Linked DNA regions of Homo sapiens: all the other regions are linked to region 1. The links come from fine-mapping of genetic effects on gene expression. A gene starts in region 1. Each other region holds a variant in brackets. All regions are shown on one strand. Distances are from middle to middle. Region 1 holds the start of RHBDD1 (rhomboid domain containing 1). Region 2 overlaps RHBDD1 (rhomboid domain containing 1). Region 3 overlaps RHBDD1 (rhomboid domain containing 1).

The links. PIP is the estimated chance that this variant, and not a neighbour inherited with it, causes the effect. A credible set is the group of variants that fine-mapping cannot tell apart.
Region 2: its variant is the best candidate, but not a certain one, in a credible set for the expression of RHBDD1 in whole blood (TOPMed, PIP 0.69).
Region 3: its variant is the best candidate, but not a certain one, in a credible set for the expression of RHBDD1 in whole blood (INTERVAL, PIP 0.68).

The regions. Positions count from the first base shown.
Region 1 is chr2:226,830,230-226,840,559 of GRCh38, forward strand. It overlaps RHBDD1 (rhomboid domain containing 1), which reads left to right and starts at 5,825. Exons shown (of 9, transcript NM_001167608.3): 1 at 5,825-5,858; 2 at 7,844-7,925; 3 at 9,180-9,398. RefSeq lists enhancers at 5,144-5,438, 5,278-5,347, 6,188-6,337 and a silencer at 5,608-6,137.
Region 2 is chr2:226,861,542-226,871,871 of GRCh38, forward strand. RHBDD1 (rhomboid domain containing 1) reads left to right here. Exons shown (of 9, transcript NM_001167608.3): 4 at 3,063-3,585; 5 at 5,645-5,777. The coding sequence starts at 3,153. Among named protein-coding and RNA genes, the nearest start is that of RHBDD1, 31 kb to the left of the region's middle. The variant C/T (reference allele first, on the strand shown) is at 6,009.
Region 3 is chr2:226,890,864-226,901,193 of GRCh38, forward strand. The region is part of intron 5 of RHBDD1 (rhomboid domain containing 1); the gene reads left to right. Among named protein-coding and RNA genes, the nearest start is that of RHBDD1, 60 kb to the left of the region's middle. The variant G/A (reference allele first, on the strand shown) is at 5,677.

The DNA.
Region 1 (10,330 bases):
TGAGATCGTGCCCTTATAAGAGACCCCAGAGAGCTAGTTCTCCTTTCCACCATGTAAGGACACAGCAAGAGGGTGCTGTCTATGAGGAAGCAGGCACTCATCAATCTGCCCATGATGCTTTGTCAACTTTCCAGCCTCCAGAACTGAGACATAAATTTCTGTTGCTTACAAGCCACTCGATTTATGGAACTTTTGTTATAGCAGCTCAAACAGACTAAGACAGATGACCATGTGGTTTTTGTCCTCTAGCTTATTAATATGGTGTTTTATATTAATTTTTTGCTAAGAGGGTCTTGCTATGTGGCCTAGTCTGGAGTGCAGTGGCTATTCAAAGATGCAATCATAGCCCACTAGACCCTCAGACTCTTGGGCTCACGTGATCCTCCTGCTTCAGCGTCCTGAGTAGCTGGACCTACAGGTGCATACCACAGTGCCAGATATAAACTTTTTTTTATTTTTCAAGAGATGGGGTCTCCCTTTGTGACTTAGGCTGGACTGCAGTGGCACAATCACAGCTCGCTATTCCTTGAACTACTGAGCTCAAGTGATCCCCCCGCCTCAGCCTCCTGAGTAGCTGGGACTACAGGTGTGTGCCACTGTGCCTGCCTTATTTAATTTGTTGTATAGATAGGATCTCACCATCTTGCCCAAGCTGGTCTCAAATTTCTGGGCTCAAGCACTTTCTTACCTTGGCCTCCCAAAGTGCTGGGATTACGGGTGTGAGCCACTGCACCTGGCCTTTTTTGATGGAAAGCCAAACTTGCATTCATGGTATATGATCTATCCTTCATACATATTGCCATATTTGGTTTGCTAATACTTCATTGGGAATTTTTGTACATTCACAAGGGATGCTGATCTTGTAATGTCTTTGTCTGAATTTGTTATCAGGGTAATAACATCCTCACAGAGTAAGTGGAGAACTGTTCTATTTTCAGAAAGTTTGTGTATGATGGTATAATTTCTTCCTTAAATATTTGATGGATTGACATCAGTGAATCCATCTAGACCTGGGCTTCTCTTTGTGGGAAGATTTTCTTTGTGGAAAGTATTAAATTTCCGTACTTGTTACATGTCTGTTATGGGTTGAACTGTGTCATCCAAAAAGATGTGTTGAAGCCCTAACCCCCAGTACCTTAGAATACGTTATTTCAAAAGAGGGTCATTGCAGATGTAATTCATTAAGATGAGGTCACACTGGAGTAGGCTGGGCACTTCAGCCTCTAGGAGACAGGCACGTGAGGGAACAGCACATGTGGAGATGCAGGCAGAGACTGAAGTGCTGCAGTTGTAAAACCAAGGAGCACCAAGAAAGGCCAAGGATTGCTGAAAACACCAGCAGTGGGAAAGAGACAAGAATTCTCTCTTCCAGGTTTCAGAGGGAGCAGAGCCCTGCCAACACTTTGATCGAGCTTCATGTCTCTAGAACATGAGATAATAAATTTCTGTTGTCTTAAGCCACCTAGTTTATAATACTTTTTTTTTTTTTTACAACCACCATAGAAAATAAAGTCTTTTTGGATTTTCTATTGAGCCAGTTTTGGCAATTTGTGTCTGTCTAGGAATTTGTCCAATTCATCTGCATTGTCTAATTTATTGGCACAACGTTATTTACAGTCTCTTACAATCCTTTTAATTTGGGTTGGTAGTGATGTACCTGTTTTGATTCCTAATTTTGGTCTTTTTAATTTTTTGGCCAGTTTAATGTTGGCTCATTAATTTTACTGGTTTTTTTTTTTTTCTAAAAAACAAACTTTTGATTTTCATTTTCTCTATTTTTGTTACTTATTTTATTGATTTGCAATATGATCATTATTTCCTCCCTTTGCTAAAGGTTTACGTTCCTCCTCTTTTTCTAGTTTTCAAGGTGGAAGTGTAGATTTGAGACTCTTTTTCTTGGTGTTTAAAGGACTAAATACCCTTTTGATCACTGTTTTAGCTGCAGTGCATGACTTCAATATGTTTTCACTTTCATTCATTTCAAAATACTTTCTAATTTCCTTTAGTACTTCTTCCTTGGCCCATGAGTAATCTAATTTCCAAACATCTGGGGATTTTCCAAATTTCTTTCTATTGTCAATCCCTAATTTAATTCCACTGTAACTGGAGAATGTACTTTGTATGATCCCAATTCTTTTAAATTTACTGAGACTTATTTATGGTCTAACATAAGGCTATCCTGGAGAGTATACTTTTTAAAAAGAACATAAATTCAGCTGTCATTAAGTACAGTGGTCTGTACATGTTGGTTAGGTTGAGAGTCTTGTTCAAGCCTTCTATATACTTAGTGATTTTCTGCCTGGTTGTTCTACACATTATTGTGAGTAGGATACTGAAATATCAAACTACTGTTGTTTGTATATTTCTCTGTTCAATTCAATCATTTTTGCTTCATGAATTTAGGGCTCTGTTACTGGGTGCATATACATTTATAACTGTTATATCTTCTCAATGTATTGACCCTCTTATCAGTATGGAATTTCTGTCTCTAAAAATATTTCTTGTCAGCCAGACGCGCTGGCCTGTAATCCCATTTGGGAGGCCGAGACAGGTGGATCACATCAGGTCAGGAGTTTGAGATCAGCCTGGCTGACATGGTGAAACCCCATCTCTACTAAAAAAATACAAAAAATTAGCCAGGCATGGTGGCGGGCACCTGTAATCCCAGCTACTTGGGAAGCTGAGGCAGGAGAATTGCTTGAACCCGGGAGGCAGAGGTTGCAGTGAGCCAAGATTGTGCCATTGCACTTCAAAAAAAAGAAAAAAGAAAAAGAAATTTCTTTCTTAAAGTCTGTTTCATCTGATATTAGTATAGCCACTACAAATCTCTTATGGTTAGTGTCTGCATAGTCTACTGTTAAGTATTGTTGGTATTATTATCACTATGGTACATGAACCAATTTCTCATTTTTACAGTTCTTAAATTGAGATTTGAATTATTTAATTTGCAAGCTTTTCCATAACTAGAAAGCTATAAATTATCTTATCAGTTTTACACATATTTTGGTACAGTTTTGGGTAAAACAGTAATCAATACTTGGTTCATTAAAAGCAATTAGAAACCCAAACAAGCTTCTCCCTTAAAAAGATAATCCAGTTGTGTATTTGTTGCACGCTGTCGTTGCATGGTATTGTTGCCTGACGTCCTCTCACTTTCAGGCTGGGTTCTGAAATCTGAGAATGACACTTGTCTACCTTCCTGCCAGTCCTGGATTTGTGAACTGTACAAGGGTTGTTACCACCACTCCTCCGCTTATGTGCAAGCACCACATCTTAAAAACACTCATTTAAGTCGGGTGGCTTAATCATAGGTATTGCTGCTTTTCCTGTAAACCTTAGATAAAAGTTAAAATTTATTTTATACCATTCAATGTCTCACATATTATGCACAATGTGCATAGTGCTGCCTCGTCTCATGATTAAGATATATACTTTCCAGCATTTAGAAATCATTGTTTTATATGGTAATGTAGTGATTACGTATATTTTAAGTTAAAGAATTTCTTCTGGCACTGATTCTTTGGTATTTTTAAGCCTTGCTCAGTGAAAGGATGCTGCTGCTGATTGCTTCATATGTTCATATTTAAGATATACAATTATTATCCAAGTGATATTTGTCAATTGAAATGGGATATGAGCATGTTACAACATGCTCATTTCAACAGAAACTTTTAAAAAACCCAGTCTGCTCAACAAATCACGTAGGACAAAAGAGAAGGTCATTTTTTAAAAGGTAGATATTTTTTTCTATCTGTTAAATGTCTTTTACCCCTTAAATGTCTATGAAAATTTTCACTGATATTTGAAACAGAACATAATTACCTAAGAATATTCTTAATCCGTATATATTTCTTACATTTTAACGAAATTATTGAATTGAGACTTCTTGATTTGTGGCTCCCTTAAAATCACCTCTGCATTTGATGTATTATACGGACAAGAAAATGATGCAATTATAGAAAGATGTAGAGAGTGATGGAGAATAGAAGATAAGATTAATATTAATTGAATGGATTCATATGATTGTGGTTCAGAAGGATAAATGAGGACTTCTTCCTTTTGAGAAATTACACATTTCCCCCTCTAGGGAAATACAGAAAATACCTCTATAGGCAATTTACTTTTCCCCGCATTCATTTGACTTTTCATGTCCAGAAATGCAGTTTCTCATTGTCAGTTGAGCTTTTGGAGGAGTATATTGTTTTTCTAGGAAAGAGGTAACTTATGAGTCTTAATGAACACGTACAATTTGCTAAGAATCTTCTTTGTCACTTGAAAGTCATATGTACACCCACACCTATGCATGAGCCACATTTTCACTTAAATTTCAAACTCCAAAATAAATATTTCTATGAAGAGTTTTAATACACAATGGCAAAAGATAAACTCTTCTGGTTTAGGCAGTTTTTGTTTTAGCAGACTATCTAAACACAGCTGCTACAACTTCCAATAAACAAAGAGTAACACTAAACCACCTGTATTCGGATACTCGGATTCCTTCTTGGAAAAAGAGCATCTTTACCCTAGCTATCAGAAAATTCCATACCAAATAGTAAGATTTTTTTTTTTTGAGATAGAGTCATGCTCTGTCGCCCAGGCTGGAGTGCATGGACGCGATCTCACTGCAACCTCTGCCTCCCGGGTTCAAGGATTCCCCTGCCTCAGCCTCCCGAGTAGCCGGGATTACAGGCGCCCGCAACCATGCCTGGCTAATTTTTGTATTTTTAGTAGAGACAGGGTTTCGCCATGTTGGCCAGGCTGGTTTTGAATTCCTGACCTCCGGTGATCCGCCCGCCTTAGCCTCCCAAAGTGCTGGGATTACAGGCGTGGGCCACCGCGCCAGGCCTGTTGTTGTTTTTTAAATAGAGACAAGGTCTCACTATGTTGTCCAGGCTGGTCTCAAACTCCTGAGCTCAAGCGATCCTCCTGCCTCGACCTCCCAAAGTGCGGGGATTACAGGCGTGAGTTACCGCGCCCGGCTGTAAGATAGTTTTTTCATATCCTATTAAATATATATAGCATTGCAACATTTAACTTAGCCTAACTCCTACAGCTAAACATAAAACTTGCTCCCGAGTAGCAAACAATTAAAATGGTATCAAATTATGTATTAATCGAAATTCTATTAACTGAAATATGAAACACCTAAAGCCCTCAAAATGGGCAAACGTTGCGTGGTGCAGTCCCAGACCCAAGCTTCTGGGAGTGAAAGGTGCACCCGCGACCTTGCCTTGCTGGCTGGCTCTGGGACTCTGCGATAAGCCGCCCTCCGGTTGTCTGCGATAGCTCCTGAAGCAGGAGAGTGTCTTTCCCACCCTCCGCCTAACAGGCGGTATCTGACCCTTCCAGGCAGCAGCTCCCCAGCCTCCGGCTGCGCTGGGGCCCGGAAGGACGAAGCTTCCCGGCAGAGAACCTGGGCAGAGGCGTCCGTTGGGTAGGCGGCCGCGACCCGCTCGCTGCTTCTCCCCTAGTCTTCGGGTCCCTTGAACGCAGGTCGCTTGTTTGCCTTACGCGTAGTCAGCGGCCAGTGGCTATTTATGGCAGTAAGGAATATTATCCACATTTCACATGGAGCTTAGAGGACAGGGCGAGGGTCCACACTCTCCTTACTGCGCTCTGCCGCGGTCCTGCCCCGCTGTGCCCTCGCGGCCCCCTTAGAGCCACTGCCGGCGCACGCGGTCTGCAGACAGCAGAGCGCGGGCGCGCACAACTAAGCATGCGCCGCGGCCGAGCCGTCCGCTTTAAGGCCCTCCCCTCCCGCACCCGGCCCCAGGAACCCGGGGCGCCCCGGATCGGGAACGTGCGTGATGACGCACGTGCGCGCGAAGACGTGGGGACGCAGGCGGGTCGTAGAGAGCGTGAGTTTCCGCGTCTGTTTGGTCCGGCTGCTGTCGTTGGTTGTGAGCGGCATCTCTCGCCGTTTCCCCGGGCTGCGGGAGCTGGCGGCCGGGCTGGGGCTGCTGGGCGGAGGTCGGCGCCTCCCGGGGGGCTAGGGCGAGGGAGGCATGGCGGGGCTGGAGGCACAGCCTCCCCGTCCGGGGCAAGTCCGAGAGCGGGGAGGGCGTTTCCTGGGGTAACTCCACCTGGGGTCTTGTCGAAGTTGCCGCATCTCCGCCGGACCGCACGGGAACGACGTGCCCACACTCGGAGGAAGGGGTTGGCGCTGAGCGAGTTTAAAGGGTTCCTTTTGAAAGCAGGAAGTTTGAAGTGACGTTGCATCAGCAACAGAGCATGCAGTTTCAGGTGCTCTCGGGACAGCTTTCAGTTTCTCAGAACAAGTCTAAGCCTCACCGCAGTAATAACTTTTATTAGAGGACAAAAAATCCGCCAAAGTAAACCCTTTCTGTCCAACCCCTAAAAACCTTTGGATAAACGTTTACAAGAAACGGATCACAGCCTTATTTGTTTTTCTAAACTGAGCATAAACTCTTTTGAAGACTCAGCGTTACTGTCAAAATGAATGAGTGCCTGCCTAGTTATGATTCAATTATCGAGGTGTTTGGGTCTCTGCAGTACACTCAGTGACTCCCAGGCTTTTCTTTTTTCTCTTTGAAATTGCTTATTAGAAGGCTTTATCTAATTTCTCACAGTTGTGTGTCTTTTTGAGGTAGTTCTAATAAACTTTAAAGGCTTCTGGTTTGCTGCAGGCCTGCCGTCGCTGTGGAAAGCAAGTATTCTTTCAAAGAAGAATAGAAGTGCATTGGTTTCTAAATAATCCCAGGACGCTAGGATCAGCATCACTTGGGAACTTCTTGGAAATGCACATTTTGGGGTCTTATCCCAAACTTACTGAATCAGAAATATATTTTAACAAGCCTTCCAGTTGATACCAATGCACCTGGACGCTAAAGTTTGAGAATTAATGGCGTAGTGATAACACCCATTGTGGAATCACATATAATGGAATTTGAATTGAAGTAATTCCTAGATGGAAAAACTTGGACATGTTACCTCACAGGGCTGGAATATGAAGATGCAAGAAAAATGTTTAACACAAAACACATAGAAAACCCTCAAAGATGTTATTAAGTAACTTATTAGAACTGCATAAAATAAGTACATAGTTTGTGCTGGAAGGATTCTTCAGCGGGGTAGATATGAGCTGTAGCGCATGGATATTGGGACTGCTGCTTAGAGGGTATTTTGTTTACCTCGGGATTCTCAATTCTGTGTAGTCAAGGTTGTTGGATGCAGGATATTCAGTTAAAAGTTAAAGCAGTGCATACTAATGCTATTGTGGTTGTAGGATTTTTAAGAATAGCATTAGTATTTATGTTGAAGAGTAGTTTTTAATTCTTTGGCCTTCTGATCTCTTCAGCTTTGTTTGGAGACAGTCTCTTTCTGCCACCCAGGCTGGAGTGCAATGGTGCAATCTTGGATCACTGTAACCGCTGCCTCCAGGGTTCAAACGATTCTCCTGCCTCAGCTTCCCAGGTAGCTGGGATTACAGGCGTCTGCCACCACGCCCAGCTAATTTTTGTATTTTTAGTAGAGACGGTTTCACCACGTTTGCCAAGCTGGTCCCGAACTCCTGACCTCAGGTAATCCACCTGCCTCGTCTTCAGTTTAGTTATACCTTCTTTGACCCAGAATTTGGTAAAGACCAGAGGTAAGCACTAGTTTTAGAGTTGAGAATTATTGTAACATAGTGACTTGCAAGCGAAAGCCAAGGCTGAATATGTTTCTGTCCTTATCTTTGTTTCCCATATGTCGTACAACTCCACGGTAGCAAAGATCTCATGTCTACTCTAGATACCTCCATTTTCAGGAAGGATCACAGGAGTGCCCTCAACCTGCTGTGTTTTTTAGATGCAGTATTTTCTTACAACTTTATCTCTTTCAGGGGTCCATTGTAGGGGGAGAAAGAAATATTCAGGATTTAAAGCAGCTGCTCTAAAGGCTACATTCACTGCAATGTTGAGAAGGTCAGTGCCAAACCGTGGCCTACACATGTCGTTTTGATGAGAGCACGCTGCTCCCAAGGCTATACCATGGCTCCTGGATATTGAGAGAGTTTTCAGATAAACATAAGTCACTTTGAATGGATTATTCTGGAAATAATTTCGTTAGCTCTGCCACCAAATTGGCACTGCCCCATCATGAAATGTTTATTTTTCGAAGGCATTAAATATTTTTTTTTGTTCTCCTCATCGGAGAGGCAGATCGCTATCTGTGGTTTTAGGTCAGACAAGCCCTGCTCTGAATCTTGCCTCTGCTACTTAGTGATTGTGTACATTAGACAAATTAACATCCTCCCCACTTGAATTTCTGTAAAGTAGGAGTCATAGGATGTGCTACTTCAGGCCATTGAATTAAATGAAATAACGCATAAAACACGTCCACCTTGTTTTAGGCACAGAGGCTCAGTAAATGTTGTGTGTCGGACAAAGGGAAAAAAGGTATTTGTTGTCTCAAACCTAACTTTATGCCATTCATTTTATAATATTTTTATAAATGAGGTAATTTTATTACCTAACTGCACTGCTTTTCTTTTTAACCATAAAATGCTGAAATGGAGTCAAAGCTTTCATATTATTGTGAATGAGAAAAAACAAACACTTGAAAAAAGTTGAAACTTTAACGTGAAAAAACACCATCTTCAGTTTTATCACTGTAACAGAGCAACTTGTAGAAATTGTTTTGGATGTTTACAGCAAGGTAAACATCCAAAGGTCAGGGGATGAGTAATAAAGTATCTTCTGTTAGTTAATGGGGACAGTCAGCTAGAGAAGGGGACACTGTTACAGGAAATGAGACCTCGTTGAAGGTATGCATCAAAGGATGAGAAAATGCTGTTAGCCCTGAAATTGCTAATATTTTTTTAAAACACGAATTCTTAATAGCAAAGTGAAAAGTTTTACATTACATTTTTTAATAAGGGATAACAAAATCTCTTACATGTATTTCTGTGTGTTTATATTGTATATGAATGTATGAGTGCAGAAAATACTTGACTCACACTAGGTCATAATTTTATTTGTCAGTATATTGGAATATGGGGGTGGGGACCAAGTATAAAAGGAAATTTTCTATATATGTAAAATTAGATACGTACATGTATATGTAAATGTTCTTTAAAAAAACTATTAAAAACGGAAGCGATTCTTTAAAAGGTAGATTTCCTTTTATGTTGCAGTCATAGCCACGTAAGCAATGGACCTCATATTTTTTTTCAACAGGGAGCCTCTTAAACAGAATCTTACCTGTAAAACTCAGGAGCCGAGAAGCTTTAAGAACAGTGAGGTTGAAGGGCACAGGCTCTTGGTCCTTGGCAGCGATATTAGGAGGCGTGCCTAGGGAACCTCGGATTCCGGGGAGCTGGACGTGAAACTCTGTGGTGGAATAGAAATCCTCAGGGCATGAGCTATACCTAAAACGTAATGGTATTAAGAATTCTGGTAAGTGGGATTCACAAACTTGTTCTGAAGACAATTTCCAAGGTTGTCAGCCATGTCACCATATGGATGGCTTCTCATGCAGAGGAGTGAGTGATTATTGAGAAAAAAAAAAACCCACCTGACCCGTATTTTACAAAGTAGGATTCTGTGCACTTTTTTGAGGAATTAGCTTTTTAAAAAATCCCTCCAAGTTGTGACAGCTGTATCGCTATTAAAAGCTATTTGGCATTTTAACTGACTGTTGTTTAGGATTACAAATGACTCGGGGAAAAAGAAACAAGGAGTCAAAGGAAGTGTATTACTTGTGTTTATAGCCCTATCATTTTTTTGTTGTATGGAAGCAACTACTCTATATTTATATAGTAAAGTGTTTTTTTAGAGTTAATTTTTAGTTAATAATGAGCCTTCATAAGAAAAATAATTTCAAATGCTAAGTATTTGTTAGATTGTTACTAATAGTGGTAGTTAGTGATATTACATTGTCTTTTTCACACATTGAAGAGGGTTTCCTGGTGACAGCTGGAGCTTGGGGGAGGGGGAGTTACTTTCAATCAACCAGCTGCTTTGTGGCAATATCATGATGGTGATATTTCAAAGCCCATAGATAACTTTGGCTGTTTCAGGAAAGAAAATCTATCAAATTTCTGGGAAGCAACAGATAATGGGCAAGAGACCTTTGGGATCTACGTGATGGCCAACTAACAATGTGTGCATTCCGGTTTGCATGTTGGGGTTATTTACCATCTAGTTTCTTGGACATTGTTACATGCACCTCATAATTACACAGTAATAGAATCTAGCTCTAAGGGCAGGAAAATCTCATTAAGGAGAGGAAAGGAGAGTGAAAAACCTTGGTGATGCACTGCACGCTTTAACATAATACCCTATTTCATTTATTCTTGATGGTGATTCTAGAATGTAAGTGGAATTTT
Region 2 (10,330 bases), 31 kb after region 1:
TAGTTTTGATTTTCTGCTACATAAAGCCCAGCATCATAAGACACTGTTGGCAATGATATTGAAGGGTTTATTTTGTGATTTCTTGTAAGCTGATTATTTACTGATCAATGATCAAGGCCAGTTTTTCCATTGTTCCTGTTAAAGGTAATAATGTTTGATATATGTAACATAAATATTTCTGTGTGTGTGTGTGGGCACACGTGTGCACACATATTGATAAATTTAGGAGAATTACAAAAAAGTTACGGTAGGTAAAGAGTTGAAAGTTGACTTGAGTTCTAATGTGAAAAATATAGGCCATTTATCCAAAGTTATGTGGGAGCATTTCAGTTTAAATTTCATTAAATTCTCTAGTTCATAAGAATGCTACAGAGCTACAATAATAACAATATAGAAACGGGTTGTGCTAATACATGGGGTTTTGCCAATAATGTGTGTGTGCATGCACGTGTATGTATATGGCTAATTTTGTGTGTGTATGCATACACATATATATATACACATGCATAATTTTTTTCTGAACATTGTTTTGGTGTGATGTTGATAATAAGAATCCATATGGGGGCATAGGAGTACATTTGAGTCTTTTTAGGATGTTACCATTTGCAAAGGAATTAATTCTCACATAAGTAAGTTTACTTTATAGAAATGAAAGTAGTAGCTACTGTTTATTCTGCATCTCTTTTGTTCCAAGCATGTCACAGTAATCCTGGGAAGGAGGTTTTATGTTTCTTAAAGGGAGGAAATTGAAGTTCAGAAAGTTTAAATGATTTGCCCCAGGTCACAGAGCTAGAAGATAGGAGAATCCTGCCTTTTTTTTTTTTTTTTTTAACTCTAAAACTCATGCATTGTCCAGTGTGCAGTCCAAGTTAGAATCCTTAGGGTATTAGAGTGAGTTACCTGTTTGGTTGGGGGCCAATTAATCTCCACAGAGAAAGCAGAAACCATTAGATGAGAACTTTTTCAACATTTTGCCCCTAATAGCTACACCTGATTTTTCTTTTCTTTCTGTTAAGAGGAAAAGACTCTTCCCTCCAAGCACTTGATCCTTTTTATTTATCTCTTGCATCTTTAGTCTGTGTCTCTGCCTGCATCTCTTCCCTTACTAGCTTCTTCTCATGAGCATGAAACAGTCCCTCCCTGGCTTAGTCCGTTTAGGGTTGCTATAAATACCTGAGTCTGAGTAATTTATAAAGAAAAGAGGTCTATTTAGCTCACAGTTCTACTGGCTGTAAAGTTCAAGATTGAGCATCTGGTGGGGGCCTCAGGCCATTTCCATTTGCGGTGAAAGGTGAAGGGGAGCTAGCATGTGCAGAGATCATGTGATGAGAGAGGAAGCAAGGGAGTGGGGAGGTGCCAGTCTCTTTTAACAACCAGCACTGGCAGGAACTAATAAGAGTGAGAACTCACTCATCCCCTGACCCCAGGGAGGGCATTCATCTTTTCATGAGGGATATTCCCCCATGACCCAAACACCTCCCATTAGGCTCTACTTCCAATACTGGGGATCGGATTTCAACATGAGGCCGGGCCTAGTGGCTCATGCCTGTAATCCCAGCACTTTGGGAGGCTGAGGCAGACGGATCACCTGAGGTCAGGAGTTTGAGACCAGCCTGACCAACACGGTGACACCTAGTCTCTACTAAAAATAGCCAGGCATGGTGACACATGCCTGTAATCCCAGCTACTCAGGAGGCTGAGGCATAAGAATCATTTGCACCCAGGAGGTGGAGGTGGCAGTGAGCCAAGATCATGCCATTGCACTCCAGCCTGGGCTACAGAGTGAGATTCTGGCTCTAAATAAATAAATACATTCATTCATTCATTCAACATGAGGTTTTGGAGGGACAAACACCTAAACCACAGCACTCGCGAAAGGCAATACCTTCTGTATTAGTTAGTAGTTGTTGCATAACAAACCACTCCAAAGCTCAGTGAAGTAAACCAAGTACCATTTATTTAGCTCACTGTTTTGTGGGTCAGCAAATTAGGCTGGGCTCAGCGAGACTCACTTGTATACCTGTGGTCAGCTAGACAGCTTCACCTCTGGAGTAGTAGCTGACCAGTGGCAAGGACCTTCAGGGTGACTGGAGTGTGTGCCTCTCTTTCATTACCCAGCAGGCTGGCCTAAAGTTTTCACATGTTGTTTGAGAGGGTTTCAAGAGAGAGAAGCCTATAAATCATCTTGAGGTATAGGCTGGGAGCTTATGTAGTATCCCTTCCTCCACATTCTGTTAGCCAAAGCATGTCACAGTGCCAGCCCAGGTCCAGCGGGGTGGAGAAGCGGGCTAGTAAGCCATGGAACTTCTCATTGTCAACCCCAAATCACCCTTGAAGACCATAGTCAGATCACCACCTCAGGCTGTGTTGTGTGCCTGTGCTCTGGGTTCCCTCTCTCACTGCATTTAGAACATTATGTGGCCACTGTTGGTTTATTTCTTGGTGGAAAGTGAGCCTCTTAAAAACAAGGACTGTGTTTCAACCCAGGATTTGGCTTGTAGAGTAGGTAACGAAAAGCTGAAGTTGTTATGAAAGTAGAGTTCAGACCACTGATATCTGGCAGTGTGGAAATTGGGATTAAAGATAATGTATGCTCGTGTCTTAAAACTTGCTTGTTGATGTTTAAAAACTTTGGAGCAAACTCATTCTAACATATCAAAATCAAATATTTCTTTGAAAAAAATGGAGGGGATAAAGAATCCTGGCCAGGATTCTGAGTAGAAATCATTTAATACTTGCACACTATCTTTGTAGGTTTTTCATGAGGTTACATGTTTGTTTGGGAAGTGAAGTTAATTTCGTGGTGTGTTTGTCAGAGAAAAACATACCTGTCCATTAACTGATTCATTGGGATTTGGGATAACATTTCTATTCTAGAATGTAAAATGAAGGAAGGGTGTCAGTCAGCATCCTCGATATTACTCTTGAAGATGTCGAACATAAATATTTCTGTTAGAATGAGAAGTAGCATTTGCCTCATGGGAGTTTGTCTTGAAGCGAGTATGTCTTATATATGTACTAATTCTTAATTGATGGTTTTTCACATGCATTTTGTGTTTTAGGTTCAGCCGTCTGTATATCTCCCCAGATACCTGAAACTGACCACCTGAGTACGTTTTCCCATTGCTGAGCTGTTTCCCTGATATCTGGCCATGCAACGGAGATCAAGAGGGATAAATACTGGACTTATTCTACTCCTTTCTCAAATCTTCCATGTTGGGATCAACAATATTCCACCTGTCACCCTAGCAACTTTGGCCCTCAACATCTGGTTCTTCTTGAACCCTCAGAAGCCACTGTATAGCTCCTGCCTTAGTGTGGAGAAGTGTTACCAGCAAAAAGACTGGCAGCGTTTACTGCTCTCTCCCCTTCACCATGCTGATGATTGGCATTTGTATTTCAATATGGCATCCATGCTCTGGAAAGGAATAAATCTAGAAAGAAGACTGGGAAGTAGATGGTTTGCCTATGTTATCACCGCATTTTCTGTACTTACTGGAGTGGTATACCTGCTCTTGCAATTTGCTGTTGCCGAATTTATGGATGAACCTGACTTCAAAAGGAGCTGTGCTGTAGGTTTCTCAGGTAAGGGAGACAAAATTTTGAGGTTGCATGCATAAAGGAAGCAAGGGAGGTGTGGCTGCTGTCATTTTATGAAGTGTGGGTCCCTATCAAATTCTGAGTGGTTAAGGGCTGCTGAGGCTTTGCGTCTTGAAGAGGAGGCTGGAGCATGCAGGGACTAGTTTTTGCCATTCTACATTATGCTGCATTATTCACTCTTAGTCTGCACTAGGACCTGCTGGAAGGTGGTTTTGTAGAAGACATAGTATTGGAAATATGCACCAGCTCCTTATGGTAGGGTCACAGAAAGACCCACAGATGTATTTGTAATAGGGAGTTCTCAAAAAAGATGACTGTGCTTGTGAAGTAGGCTCAGTGTGCTGTCTCTGATTACCAACTTGTCTGCACCTGGTGAGACAGAGCACACTCATCTGCAACAAGTTACATGAGGCAGATTTAGTATTTACAGTTAGGCAGCAAGGGAAAACAGGAGCCTAGGATTCATCGTGAGCCCATCTTCAAGGCTCAAAAAGCTGCCTAGGGCTGTTGGAGTCTTCACTGTGTGTGTTCCTTGCATGCAAATAAGGAACCCCAAAGAGGCAGCCAGGTACAAACCTAGGAATCACATGAATCACTGGGCAAAGCTTTGAAAGACATCCTATTCGGGAGAGGATTAGGCTGTTTCAGCCAGCCCCCTTTTATCTCAGGGTGTTGGATTTCCAGCACATTTCCATAGTTATTCTTGAGAACTACAAGCGAGAAAGGAGGGGGAGAACTACATAGGTCCAAGGCCACCTGGAGAACTGTCCTGCGATGCCTCTGGATGACTTCGTTAATAAATGGACCACACCCTGCTATGGCATGCTGGCCATGTTTTAGGAGCCATGATAATCACTCTGCATAACCTAACCAATTTAATTTATGCAGCAGATCCACATGGAGATGGGATTATCTTTATTTTATTTTATTATTTATTTATTTTTTTTGAGACGGAGTCTCGCTCTGGCACCAGGCCTGAAGGGCAGTGGCGTGATCTCGGCTCACTGCAACCTCCGCCTCCCAGGTTCAAGCGATTCTCCTGCCACAGCCTCCCGAGTAGCTGGGACTACAAGGCACGCACCACCATGCCCAGCTAATTTTTGTATTTTTAGTACAGATGGGGTTTCACCATGCTGGCCAGGATGGTCTCTATCTCTTGACCTTGTGATTCACCCACCTTGGCCTCCCAAAGTGCTGGGATTACAGGCGTGAGCCACTGTGCCCGGCCTTGATTTTATTTTACTTTTTTTATTTGTAGTTTTTTTTCTGACCACCTGCTGACTGTTGAGGGATTGTCTTGATTTTATAGATGAGGAAGCCAAGACCCAGAGAAGTGAGGTTACTAGCACAAGGTTACCCAGCTCGGAAGCGATGGAGCTGGGACTTGAGCCCAGTCTACAGATTAGCTGTGTGATGCATTGTCTCTCACTTTCTTCCTCACTAGTTCCTTTTTACAGATATTTCATGGGACCAAAATTGCCAGCAGGATTTAAATTAGGCGTTCTAAATATTAGAATGTGAAGGGGAGGAGAGAGGTAGTCCTGAAACAAGGAAATCTAATCCTTCCTTCTGCTTTTCCTGACATCCTTCCCCTTTCCTTCCAAGATGTATCCTTATGCATCTAATTGTGGGAGAAGAAAGAATATATGCCCTGTCTTCAACATGTTTTTCCATAGAGGTTAGAAAAATACATATTACTGGTATTTTTATTGAGTTAAAATTTATATAGCATAACTATTTTGTAGTGCACAGTTCACTGGCGTTTAATACTAATAATAGTATTTTATTCACATGGTAGGTATTATGTATTTAGTAGCATACTGAACACCAATATGAACTTCTATATTTAGAAACATCAAAGGAGTGACTGCCTTTAACGTTGTCTTTTTACCAAATGCAAGGTTGTAAGGAATAGGGTATGTTTTAAAGCACAAAGTTGGATGTAATCGAATAATCATTTTCACTTTTAATTAACTTTCTTTGTAAATGTTGATACTCCTACTTTTGGATTGTTGATATTTGCATGTTCTTCATTCTCTTTTAGGAGTTTTGTTTGCTTTGAAAGTTCTTAACAACCATTATTGCCCTGGAGGCTTTGTCAACATTTTGGGCTTTCCTGTACCGAACAGATTTGCTTGTTGGGTCGAACTTGTGGCTATTCATTTATTCTCACCAGGGTAAGTGTTTTCTTTTGGGGAATACAGTTGAAGGACCTGATGTTCTGTGGAGAAAAAAATTGCAATAATAATGAGGTAACCAATTGTTTTTCACAGTGAGGTTTATTCTTTATCTATTAGGACAGAATCAAGCTTAATAGTTTTAATGTCAGATATTTCTGGGTTTGAATCTTTTCAACTATTAAGCTGTATAATTTTGGGTCACTTGTCTTAACTGAGTTGCAGATTCCT[C/T]ATTTTTTTTAAGTAGGAGAACCTGCTATACTGATCTGAGGATCAATATTAACCAGCCAATCAGCTGGTTAATTCTGAAAGCAAGATTCCAAAGAAGCACATAGAAACCACGTAACTATAAAGATTAAAAAGCTATAAGGTATGTTGATCTAATGCTTTTTATTATTATTATTATTCTTTTTTTTTTGAGATGGAGTCTCGCTCTGTTACCCAGGTTGGAGTGCAGTGGCGTGATCTCAGCTCACTGCAACCTCCACCCCCTGGGTTCAAGCAATTCTCCTGCCTCAGCCTCCCAAGTAGCTGGGATTACAGGCGTGTGCCACCACACCTGGCTAATTTTTATATTTTTAGTAGAGTTGGGGTTTCACCATGTTGGCCAGGATGGTCTCGATCTCTTGACCTTGTGATCTGCCGGCCTTGGCCTCCCAAAGTGCTGGGATTACAGGCATGAGCCACCGCACCCGGCCGATCTAATGCTTTTAAGCCATTTTAGCTGTCAATTGTCTTGGTAGTAGAACTTTTTAAACAAAAGGCTTTACTTAACACTCAAAATGTGAAATGGATCAGCTCTGAAGTCTTTTGGGTTGAGAAGTGGAATGGGGCCCCTTTCACCTTACTCCCATGTTGCTGTGGCTTCCTCAGAGGAGGCACCTCCACAAAACCCTAGAGCTCCAGGAAGTACAGTTTCAGAACTGCTGATTTAGATGAATTTTTTCCCTTACAGAGAAGGACTTGGAAATTCGGAAGGTTAAGAGACTTATCAACAAACAGTTTGTGGTAGACACCAGCCTTGTGAGGATTCAGGCCCCCTGACTCCTGTCTGGGGCTCCTGCCCATTCATGCTGCACTTTCTTCCTTTGGTTCTTTTCTCTGCTTTTTGTTTAGAAAAAGGAAGATAAGTTGTGTTATTTTTTCCACCTCTTCCACCAGCTTCACTTTCCTTAATCTGTCTTGTGCAACTGGAAATGCATAATGTTTGTTTTTACTGTGGGACTGGACGTTGGCAAAGGGTGAGATTCAGGAAGGTTCAGAAAGAAGGAAGATTTCTATTTGCTACTGTTCTTTACAGACAGTTTTTATTTTGGTTTTGATTTGTGTGACTGTGCTGGGTGTCTTACCTTATTTGAGAGTATTCTCATGGGGCTGTGTGTCAGCCCGGTAACTCCAGGTCCTTCTTTAATGCTAATTTCCCATCACGGGCAGCCACTGGCAGCTGGCCCATAAATGACAGTGACGTGGCCCCTGAGTACCACTCATTTACAATTGTATTGCTACTTTTGACAGTTCCACGAAGAAAGCCTAACAAAATCTTCAAAGTTTTCTTTGAGAAAGCATCCGGTAATGTCTGTCCCTTATCTGAACAGCCCTCTCTATACCTTGTCACTCACTGCTCCCCTGACTTGCTTGATGTGACTTGGTTCTCTGTGTCAATGATAGGCTCTTGTATGTGACTGGCAACACCCACATTCATATGAAAATCACTCCCTCTGCTATTTGAACTTTCATCCTGTGATGAATCCATTGAATAACAGTGCGTTTAATATTCTTATGCAACTATTTCTGAAGTGCTTTTTATGCATTTCATTTTTTAGGGTTCCCCCCAACTTACATGGAAAAGGGATGGTTGCATTTCTGTGTCATATGCATATTCTTTGTGGAGGCACCGGTAATTCTGAGCTTGGGAAGTAAATGAAATTTCCTGTCTTTGAACTTAAAGTCTTTTGATTTTTAAGATTTGACTGCTTTGAATGATAAACTTCTAATATACAAGCATCTACTTACACATGTATCCAAATAAAGACTACGCTAAACACTGGCCCAGGAAACCTAAGCAGTGAATGCTTCTTTGAGATGGATCTCGGAAGAATGGCTGAAACTAGAGCTCTCTTTGCAATGCATTGTTATTTGCTTGATGGTTGTCAATTAGAATTTTCATTGGGAAAACACTGTAAATCTTTAGAACAAAGCTTGCTTTATTGCAGGACTGTATGGGCTGCCCTTCGGGAGGAAAAAAAATCTGCCAAAGCAAACATTTGGTGGACCTCTGTGTTTTATGAAAGCCACGGAATTAGTAATTTCCCCCAGTTACAGAGTTTTATGAAGGAAAGCCACCCCAAATAGGCATCGTGAGGAGTATGAGGCATGTGGACTTGATGCCAGAGTGAAGCAATCTCCCTCATTCACGTGGTGCTTTTGCTTCTCACAGTGTCTGTGTGTACTTACTTCAGAGGTTGCTCTGCTTCACATCCGGCTTTCCATTTTCCTTCGTGTCCTGAGACCCTGATAGGTGATAGTGTCTGAAGGGGTGTCCCAGGAGGGAGATGTGCAGGCCACCTCTGGTGCCTCCTTCCTAGACCAGGCTTCTGTCCCTTCCCACCTCCTACCCCCACCAAGATTCTGTTGATGGGAGGAAGGGGGATATGTTGCCTGGTTTTACCTTCTAGCGAGATTATGAACCTCTGTGTGTTCTCGTCTGAGCCTTAGGCTATCTAGACAGAAAACCAAAGTGGAGAATCATGAACATCACCCAGAGTAAGACAGCCACTCAGCGACTATACTAGAGGAGAGCGGTTGAATGTGACAGGGCCGGGCTCACATACTGGCCGTGGGACCTCGGGCAAGGTACACAGCCTCTCTGAGCCTCATTTTCCTCACCTGTGTAATGGGCTATTACTTACCTTCTCTGTTTGATAAGTCAGTTTTAAGGTGTCATATGCGAATGAGCTCTTTGTAAACAATAGGAAGTACTCAACCCTTTTATTATGAAATAAATCACTGGATGTGTACACTGTTCCTAAATAGAATCATACCTAATTTCTTTTGCTTTCTAAAATTAATAAATCAGCTGTTATTTAATTTTGTTTGTTTGACTTCCACTCCCTACTTCCCTTTGCTCCTACTTGACTTTTTTCGTCCTGAATGACAGCAGTCTAAAAATGCCCATAAGCCACTCTTAAACACTAAATAAGCAAGCCTTGGCTGCATTTGGACCCTGGGGTATTACAGTTGACCCCTGAACAACTTGGGGGTTAGGGATGCTGCGCCCCCATGTAGTTGAAAATTCATATATAATTTTTGACACCCCAAAGACTTAACTATCAATAGCCTACTATTGACTGAAAGCCTTACTAATAACATACACAGTCAGGTAACACACATTGTGCATGTTATATGTATCATATACTGTATTGTTACAGTAAGCTAGAGAAAATAAAATGTTATTAAGATCATCATAAAGAAGAGAAAATGTATGCACTATTTGTTAAGTGGAAGTGGATCATTATAAAGGTCTTTATCCTCATCATCTTCACATTGAGGAGGAGGAGGAGGAGAATAGGGGGAGGAGTTGGTCTTATTGTCTCATGGGTAGCAGAGGTGGAAGAAGATCCTCATGTAAGTGGACCTGCATAGTTCAAACCCATGTTGTTCAAGGATCCACTGTATTTGGTAAAATATGACAGCTGAAAGCATTACCCCCTAGGCTTTGGATACTGCTTCATTGCTAATATTTGACAAGAATAAAATTACTTTGACCCAACTAAAAATTATTTGGCTAGATTGATCAAATGAGAGAAAAAATATATTTTTTACTTGTTTCAATTTTTTATTATACAGATTTTCAATTATTTTTCAATTTAAATTTTATTTTCAATTTATTTTTCCACTTGTTTCAATTTTCTGTTTTCAAAAATATTTATAAATTTATAAATTTTCAAACATAAAGAAATGTTGATGCACCATTTGACAGTAAGTTGTAAACATAATAACTTCACCCCTAAAAACTTCAGCAGGCATCTGTTAAACAGAAAAATATAATTTTACAAAACCACATTACTGTTGTCATGCAAAAGAAAATTAACAGTAATTCCTTAATGTTGTTTAGTAATTGGTTCATGTTCAGATTCTCCTAGTGTTCAAAATGTCTTTAATAACTGTTGTGGCCAAAGGAGAACCAGGATCCAAAATTCATATATTGCCTTTGATTATTGTATTTATTTATTCTTGTATTCTAAGACGGTCTTCCCACCTTTTTACTTTTCCATGAAGTTGACATTTTAAAGATATCAGATCTCTCGTTTTATAGAATATCCCACACTCTAGACTTGTCTGCTTGTTTCCTTTGGGGCTTGTTTAACTTGTCCCTCTATCCGTTGCATTTCTGGAAACTGAAAGTTGGGTCTAAAGGCTTAATTAGATTCAGATTAAACTGGCTCTTTTTTGGCGATAATACTCCATAGGGATGATACATGTTGCATTACGTCAGGAAGGACATACATGCCAGGTGGCTCCTATGTTAGGAATTACAAGTTTAATTACTTGGT
Region 3 (10,330 bases), 61 kb after region 1:
GATCAAAGAAAAGGACACTATTAAAATTTCTAATGGTGTACTTTAAGGTTCCAGGAGCTTCAGATATGATGAAACTCAGATTCTTACTGTCATTAGGATTCTGTTTCTCCCTCCTGGCTCTATCTCACTAACCACCCACCCCCAACGCCTGTTTTGGCTTTTGTATTAGTTATCTATTGCTATGTAACAAATGATCTCAAATCCAGTAGCTTAAAACAACCACATTTACTATCCCACAGTGTTTAATAGGTCAGGAGTCTAGGTATGGCTTATCTGGGTCCTTGGTTTCGGGCTCTCTCAAGACTGCAACAAAGGTGTCAGTACAGAAATCTCATATGAAGGCTTGACTGGGGAAGGCTCCAATGCCAGCTCCTGTGGTTGTGGGAGGAATTCAATTCCTTCTGTGTTGTTGGACTAAGAGCCTCACTGTTGGCTGGAGGCTGCCCTCAGTTCGTTGCCACTTGACTCTCTCCCTAAGGCAGCTCACAATGTGGTACCTTCCTTCAGCAAAGAAGAGTCTGCTAGTGAGGCAGAAATTACAGTCTTATGTAATATTAATAGCATAATCATAGAAGTGACTTGTATTCTGTTGATTAGAAACAATTCACAGGTTCCACCTATGCTCATTGGCAGAGGGGTTATCCAAGGAGTGAATACCCAGGAATCAGGGATCACCAGGGGTCATCTGAAAGTCTGTCTGCCCAGTTTCATTCTCAGAAGAGTTCTCTCCACATGGTGACAGAGCTGACATCAGCAGCTCCTACATCCTAATGCTAGCAATCCTAGAGAAAATGCAGCTACTGTCTCCCTGGCATTTGTATAAGTATCTGTACCCAACCAATAGAATTCTTGGTTGGAAACCCTAGAAATAAACTCTGGCAAACTGAACCATAAAAAGACTTATCGGAAGGATATCAGATAGCTTCTAATATTTTTGAGAATACTGAAGACCTGGGCTGGAAGAACCTGTAAGAACTGGCAGGATGCTTGTTGCCATTGGTCAGTGCTTCACTGGACTGTCATCACTAGACTTTGTATTAGATACAAAGGGTATCTGATTGGCCAGTGCAGGTCGCATGCCTGTGCTCTGGCTGCCAGGAAGCTGAGGGACTATCTGCACCTCTTGAGCCTCCACTGGAGGTGGGGCTGTGTTTCTTTGACTGTGACACTGTGCTGAGATGAGCCCATAGGGGTCACCTGGCTTCACTAGGGTGACTTTTGTTCACAAATGTTCAGCCTAGCAGCTTGTATTGCATAAGCAGATTCAGCTCAAATGGGCAGATTTTAGAACTTTCTAGCTAGCATTTCTATGCTGTTTGTTTAACATTAACTGTGCCTTACAGACATACCAGTAAAGCTGCTACAGAGTAGTATGTGATGTTGATGGCATGTTAAGGTCTCTGAGTCATGTAGTAGATGGGGCATGTCTGTTTTTCATAGTCAGAATTTTTATTCATACCAGATTTAACCACAAGCAGAATTTACTTTTTCTGAAATTATGGGCTAACTTTGCAATGCAGTTTTTGTCCTAATCTTGATGTTGGCTCTAGGAATTCAGGGATTATCTTAACTTTTTACTTTCATCATCTTTGGCCATGTGCATATGACTTTTTGTACATGCGATACACTGACTTGAGGTATCAGGTTTTTATAAGTACAAAGAACTTGTGAATCTTTTGAAATAAGTTCATGTTTCCTTGCATGCATTTTCAAAGCTATACTTAATTCTTATGCAGCATTGCAGTAGAATAGAATAAGTAAGACCAACTTACCAAGAAGGGAAACAGATGCCACTTCTATGGGGTAATTTGTGAGGTGTAGTCTTGCCTACTCTCGAAATGTTTTTCTTATTGGCCCAATATGGCAACTGAAATCTCACCATTAGAACTCAAATTTTGGGTGAAGATCAATGCATCTCAACCTGAACACGTTGGAATTTCCTGGGGAATTAAAAACAACATTTCAAAAAAATCACTAAACAGAAAAAAAAACCAATGTCAGGACCTTACCCCAGAGCAACGTTGCGTAATTTCTGGGAGTAGGGCCCAAGGAGCAGTAAATTGTAAAACTTCTTTAAGGGATTCTAAAGTGCAGCCAGGATTGAGAACCAGCAGATCAAGAGTAGAACCTGGGAAGGGCAGTGCATTCATTCATGTTATGATGTGTACAAGGAAATACAGTAGACAGCATTTCCACAGTTCCAGTTGAGACTATTTCCTGCCATCTTTTCTTCTTCATGTGTCTGTATGATGAACTTCCTTTAACAAAGATCAATAAGTCAGAGAGTCCATCTACCATAGGGCCATGGAATTTCTAGCTATGGCATTGCTTGTGAAAATACCTCCAAAAGACTGAACTCATGGGAATATCTATTTGCTTCATACCAGTAGCACATGTTAAAATCAGGCTATAAACAGTCGAACTTCTCTTTCATTTTATATTTACTTTCTGGAGATATTGTGCAAATGATCATTGATGTGGTATCCAGAAATATTTTTGTCTATAGTAATAGCAGATGGCAGAGCATTTTTCATGTGCCAAGTCGCATTTATTCTGCTACAGTACAATGTGGAAGTGATCATGGCCTCTTTCAAATATTCAACTCCCCATGTGCATTTCAGTTGTGGTGGGAACTTTTATTGCGTATCAGTTCAATATGTTATAGATTGACTTGGAATCCTTGGAATTTTTGCATAGTATAGTCACATGAGAAGTACTTTGAAAAGAAATAGTTTCGAAGCCTCATGATTAAAAGTCATCAATTCAGCAAACATTTAATAAGCATATTTTGTGTGCTAAGCCAGTGGTTTTCCACTGGGATGGGTGGCTTTGTCCCCAGGAGGGATTTTGGAAATTTGCAGGGTTGTTCTTAGTAATCCTAATGATTAGCAGGGGTGCTACTGGCATTTGGGGTGCAGGGGCCAAAGGTACTAGCTGTCTCACAGCTTACAGGACAGACCTCCACGATAAAAATAGTCCTCTACACACAGCACTACTGACCCCCAGTCTGTCGAAAGGACATTCTTGTAAATGAAAAACCTGTTTGTGGTTATCTGAGCCTAAAACCTAAGTGTGCTTTTCAAATAAAGAGCAGTTTTTGGGGGGACATGGATTTAACATACAGTGACTTTTCCAGGAAAATTATATTAATAAATTAAATTGTAAATGTAAAGTGAGGGAAAGTTGTACTTTGCTTTATTTGGAATTAAGAGTTTTTTAACCTCACGTAAACTCACATTACCCACGGAACCTTGAATGTGGTACTTGAGTCACAAAAAGCCTGCATCTGTAACCACCTGCATTCGTTATTCCCATATTTATGAGGATTCCACACAGAGGTGCAAGCTAAGGGCTACTTTATATGTCTCCTGCTGGTGGTGTGCCTGAGCATTTGTAATTCATATTATTTTTATTTTTATTTTTTGAGACAGAGTCTCACTGTGTTGCCAGGGTTGGAGTACATTGAGATCATCTTAGCTCACAGCAACTTCTGCCTCTTGGGCTCAAGTGATTCTCCTGCCTCAGCTTCCCAAGTAGCTGAGATTTACAGGCGTGCACCACCACACATGGCAAATTTTTGTATTTTTAGTAGAGATGGGGTTTCACCATGTTGGCCAGGCTGGTCTCGATCTCCTGATGTCAAGTGATCTGCCTGCCTCGGCCTCCCAAAGTGCTTGGATTGCAGGCGTGAGCCACTGCACCCAGCCTATAATTCATAATATTTTATTTTATTACTTTTTATTCTTATTTTTTAGCTAGGATATTATGTTGACTTGTGATTGTGTGTTTGTATATGTGTCTGTGTACACAAAGTGTACAAGATGTGTTATTCACAAATTTTATTTCAAGAAGGAACATTACAAAATATTTAGGCTATAAGGTGGTATTGGGTGTGATTGGGTTGAAAGTCACCGGATTAAGTAGCAGGGTGATGTCAGACAAATCAATGGACAGGGAAACTTTAGCATGCTAGAGGAGCACAGAGGCCACTGCAGTATCCAGAGGAGCAGCCTCTGCCAAGTCCTGAGGGAGTGTGGTCACACTGGCCCGGGATGATCAGGAGCTGGGGGACATGGAGGGCAAAAGGAATGGCACATACAAAGTCCTGAAGGGTGGATGCTTAGCGTTGGTGAGTGGCTAGAGCCCAGGGTGTGGTAGGGCTGAGCCCTGGCAGAAGGGAGAGAGAAGGCTGGAGAGGCAGACAGAAGTCCATGAAGAGCCTAACAAATCTTGCTTGCATTTTATTGTAGAGACACTGGGGAGCTACCAAAGGGCTTCTGGGCTAGGATCAGGTTTGCTGGTTAGACAGACACGCTTGTCACAGTGGTGAAAATGGGCTAGATGAGGGCACGGTTACATGAGCCAGGGTGAAGCCTGAGCTAGGCAACCATGGGGTAGACTGCTGGGCTAACACCTTTGCAGGCCATGTGAACCTTTCTGAGCTCTCCTGCTGCCTAGCAGCAGTCAGCCCTGCAGTCTCACCCCAGTAGCTGTGCTCCTGACCACTTTTCTAAGAGGTTGGGGTGTGGGTGGGAAGGGGTGTTGCAGAGAAGATGGAGAGGATTGTGGTCGGTGGGAGCTACTCAGCATGGAATATAGAAGATACAGGGTAGGGAACTCTAGGATGTGTCTGGTTACATGAAGTGTCTGAGGAAAAGAACACTAACCTCACAGAATCTCACTGACTCTTTAACCTCTGTGCCCAATTAAGGGAGTCGGGGGAGATTCTTGTCCAGTTATTTTGTGTGATTTCACTTACCTTTGCTTTTATTTAATTTAGGACAACCTGCCATTTTGTTCTGAAGATTTGAATAGCAACACAGATCCTAAAGAAGCTTAGTAATACTGCAAAGCTAATGATTATGACTTTCATCCAGAGCACTATTTAGAAACACTTGCCTGTGCCAAATGGAGGAAGGTGTTCTTAACAACTCACCCCAGCAACAGCAAAACTATTTAGGCTTATCCACCACATTGATGAGAGAAGTACTGTTCTTAAAATGAGAGCCTTGCTCGGTGTCTTTTCCCTTTGCATTTAAAAATAAATGAAATTACTGAAACACTATTATAAGAAGTTTGGAAAATAAGAGGGATGTTACCTTCCCCACATATTATCTATTAATATTTTTTATGTATTTCCTTTAAATCTTGTTTTTAGATATGTTTATGTATATTTGTGTGTCTGCATAATATGTTATATGTATAAATATGTAACATTATAACTGTATACAATTATTCTAGGAATCAACACATGAAATATGGGAGCAACATTTTGAATCATTCTTCCCTCTCAGCTTCCAACTTGCGACCTAGTTACCTTCTGATTAGATGTCTCTATTTTGTTGTCTCATAGGCCTCTCAAAGCAAAGAAAACAACTGAGTTCTTGCATTGTCTCTCACCCTAGCCTTTCCTTTTCCCAATCTTCTGCATCTCAGTAAATGCTTCCACTATCCATTTAGTTGCACAAGCCAGAAGCCTAGATTTCTTCCTTTCCCTCACCCTCTACACTGAGTCCATCAGCAAGTCCTTTTATCTCTGCCTCCAAAATACATCCCAGATCTATCTATTACCCTTCCCTGGAATAGAAGCAGTCCTATCAAGATCTGTTGTAGTAGTATTAATATTTCTGTAATCCACTGCCACCACCTCCTTCCAAGCTGCCATCATCTTTTACC[G/A]GGACTACATTATTCTCCTTACCTGTCTTCTGCTTAATTTGGCCATTCTTACTTCTCTAGGGTCTGTTCTCTCAGCAGGTGGAATAGATCACTCCTAAAAATGCTCCTGTTTGGAATCCTCCAGTGGCCTTCCATTGTACTTAGAAAACAACTCAAGTTCTTTACTATGGCACATAAGGCACATGGCACACAGGCCTTATGTACCGTGAGTTTCTAAATCCGTGCAGCACCCTGTGCCCATATTTCTTGCTTACTATTAGTTATCTCAAAAATTTTTTTTTTGAGGCAGAGTCCCCACTATCACCCAGGCTGGAGTATAGTGGCACCATCTCGGCTCACTACAACCTCTGTCCCCGGGGTTCAAGTGATTCTCCTGCCTCAGCTTCCCAAGTAGCTGGGACAACAGGCACGTGCCACCATGCCTGGCTAATCTTTGTATTTTCAGTAGAGATGGGGTTTCACCATGTTGACCAGGCTGGTCTCGAACTCCTGACCTCAGGTAATCCACCTGCCTCGGCCTCCCAAATGCTAGGTTTACAGGTGTGAGCCATCGTGCCTGGCCATCTGAATGTTTTAAAATACCAAATTCTTCCTGCCTCAAGCTGCTACATATGTGCTTGTAGCTGCCTGAATCTTCCATTCCCACTTCTGAGCATGCTAGCTCCAGATCCTGCAGTGCCACTTAAATGACACCTCCTTGAGAAGCCATCCCAGACAGTTCTGGGTAAAGTAGACTTGCTTTCTTACACTTAACAGTTTGAGGTGTGTGTGTCTGTCTGTCTGTCTGTCTGTCTGTCTGTCCATCTGTCTCCTCCACTCTAGATTTTAAGCTCCAGGAGGTAAGGACCTTGTTTGTCTTGTTAGTGTAATAGTCACTAAATATTTGATGAGTGAATGAATGAATATGTCTTAGTCCATTTAGTGTTGCTATAAAAAAATACCTGAATCTGGGTAATTTATAAAGAGAAGAGGTTTATTTAGCTCACAGTTCTACCAGCTGGAAAGTTCAAAACTGAGCCTCTGCTGAAGGCCTCAGGCTACTTCCACTCATGGTGGAAGGTGAAGGGGAACCAGTTTGTGCAAAGACCACATGGCGAGAGAGGAAGAAGTAAGACAGGCAGTGCCATGCTTTCTTTAAGAACCAGCTCTGGGCCGGGTGTGGTGGCTCATGCCTTTAATCCCAGCGCTTTGGGAGGCCGAGGCGGGTGGATCACTGAGGTCAGGAGTTCGAGACCAGCCTGACCAACATGGCGAAACCCTGTCTCTACTAAAAAAACAAACAAACAAAAATTAGCTGGGTGTGTTGGCATGCACCTGCAATCTCAGTTACTCGGGAGGCTGAGGCAGGAGAATCACTTGAACCCAGGAGGTAGAGGTTGCAATGAGCCGAGATTGCGCCATTGTACTCCAGCCTAGGCAACAAGAGCAAAACTCCGTCTCAAAAAACAAAACAACAACAACAACAACAAAACAAACAAAAACCAGCCCTGGCGGGAACTATTAAAAGTGAGATCTCATTCACCCGCAAGGGAGGACATTAATCTATTCATGAGAGATCTGCCCTCATGACCCAGTCACCTCCCATTAGGCCCTACCTCCCTATACTCCTACAAGGAGGATTAAATTTCATCATGAGTTTTGGAGGGGACAAACCTCAAAGCCATGGCAGAATGCGACCTACTTGAACCAGCTCAGGGAATTGTCTTATTAGCAGGCGTAGGGACATGGAATTGAGAGCCAAGGAATTGCTAAACATTGTCTGTTATCTTGGAAGCTCTTTTGTAAAAGAGGCTTCTGCTATTGCAATACCCTTGTTTTTGTCCAGATTCTTTTTGTCTGGACCTCAAGTAAATGTCAGTGGTCAGCTTCTATCCCCGTGTCTGCAGTTGGTGCCATGTTTAATAAATCATCATGGATTGTAGAGGGTGCGTTGTCAGTATAGCTGCCTTTGGGGCACATAATATTGGAAGATGGCTAGGTTTTACTTCTGAGGACAAAGGTGCAGGGAGCAAGGGATGCATGGTAGAGAGCATGTAGACCAGGTCATTCAATCATGCTGGTATCATGGTTGAAGGAGGCATCAAGGACAGAAAACAAGAAGTTTAAAAACAGTTTCTGTTAAGAAGAAGCAATCCTGTCAGAATCTTTCCTAGTGGCCTTAGTGTTCAAAAACCTGAAAAATTTGTATTACATCTCATTGCTAGTACTGCGAATCTGGGACCATTTATTAAGATCCCCAAACCCCAGAGCTTCTGATCAGTGCAGCCCCTACCTGCTATTAACTGCTTTTACAGGAAGAAATCGTGGAGAGTACAATAGGCCACTTCTAGCTGACTGCCTCTTACCTTACCTTGTTCCTTTACCTTGTCCAACACTGTGTCTCCAAGTTGCGTCCTTAATGAGGTCATTTGCTCTGCATACATTGTGAGATTATGTCTTAGAGTATTACATTTTCTGCTTTCTGAGCTATGCTTGAGAGGACAACCTCTTCAACTGTGGAAAGAATTTGCCATTTAATAGAGGAGGGCCTTTATAGCTTGTCACAGCTTTCAGTCACAGATCCAGTTTTTGATTCTGTCACAGTGGCACATGAGAGCAGGAACATTTTGCATAACCACTTAACTCAGCGTTACAATAGCCTCTTAAATGGATGAGGAGCAGCTTAAGCTGGCTTGATGGGAAAGAACACTGTCTGTTGGTGTTAATAATATTCGTATTTAGTTTGCATAACTTAGATCCACAATAATATCTTAATCTTAGTTTTGCTCCAAAATTGCCTTTCTACTATCACTATCCCATATAAATAATGTATAGCAACATTGATTTGATTGTAACCCTTTCATATTTTATTAAAATTTTTTTCTGTAAACATATATTGAGCACCCCCTCTGTGTCAGGAAATACACAAGTGCTGCATATCTAGAGGTCCACTGGACAAAAAATAATGGGTGAGGATTTTCAGAATTGTAAAAGCACATGAGACCTCATGTTGAAAAACACAGCACATCTTAGCAGGTTAAATAAATCTGCAACTAGCTACAGTGATTGTGGTATAAAGACAGTATGTCCAAAATAAAGAGAAAATCTTTGAAAACTGAAGAAAAAGACAGATTGCCTACAGAGGAATGACTTTCCAACTGACAGTACATTTATTATCAGCAGCAGTAGATCCTATACCTGTCATCAAAATAGGATGCTGAAATAAAAACCTTTTAGGACATACAGAGACTAGGATAATTTTTTACTCTCAAATATTAACTGAAAGAACTATGAAACATTGTATTTTGGCAAGGAGGAAACTGAACCCAGAAATAGGTTGCACCATTACAGAAGCAATGACACAACAAGGAATTTGGACAATAAGTTAATGAACTTGAGTAATCAGAATAAATGGCTTCCTCTGTGCCGCCATGATTTGAGTACTAGCAAGATGTTTTCCAGTTAAATACAGAATTACTTTGGTTTGGTGCTGATGTCTGAAATTCTTGTTTGTGATGAATTATTCACCTCAATCAAGGGTTTTTAAGAAGGGGTCCATGGATGGAGTTCAAGGTATCTATGAACATCCTAAAATTACAGGTAACGCACTTTGTGTATACACAGTTTTTCTGAAGACAGGCTTGTTGGCTCTCATCAGGCGCTTAAAGGTACTTGGAATTTGAATTAGTTTAAGAACTACTGGATTAAGTTATTGTTCCTTATTAAAGTGAAATTACATCAATACTTACCTTGCTCTCAAGTTGAGATACATGATCTGAATTTGAATCGTGACGTTATTGGTTACCTTGCAGAATCACTGTGACCCTGGAAAAATTATTTTTCTTCTCATTGTAGTCTGAGTGTGCATTGTATGATCTGTGTAGCTAAAGGCAGCAGTGGTGTGCCTGGCCCCTGTGACTGTATGTCAGTATCACAGTCAGTATTTGATTATAGTTACGATTTTTCTAAAGAGAGTCACTATTAAGCTAACAGAAGAAATAAAGCTTTTAAGTTACCAATTTTAGGATATAATAATATATTTATTGTTTTGTTAATTGAACATATATTTTGTGTAATACACTGTCCAAGCGTATGTAGTGGGGTGGACAGGGGGAGGCTGTGTTCAGTCATTATCTATACCAGTGAGATTTCCTGCTAAAACAAGTATTAACTGGTGACCATGTGCAACTTGTATTTTCCCCCCAGCTTTATTGAGGCATCACTGACAAATAAATGTTGTATATGTTTAAGGTGTATAATGTGATCTTTTGTTGTACATACACATTGTGGAGTGAGTACCATGACCAAGCTAATTAATATATCTGTTACTTCAAGTAGTTAGCATTTTTGTGTGTATGGTGAGAACACTCAAGATGTACTCTCCTAGTAAATTTCAAGTGTACAATGTAATGTATTATTATTAACTCTACTCACCATGCTGTATATTAGCTCTCTTACTTATTCATCGTATAACTGAAAGTTTGTAGCCTTTGATCAACATCCCCCTATTTCTCCCATCCCTAGTTCCTGGCAACCACTGTTCTACTGTTTCTATGAGTTTGACTTCTTTAGAGTCCACATATGAGTGAGATCATACAGTATTTGTCTTTTTGTATCTGGCTTATTTCATTTAGGAAAATGCCATCTAGATTTGTCCGTGTTGTCTTAAATGGCA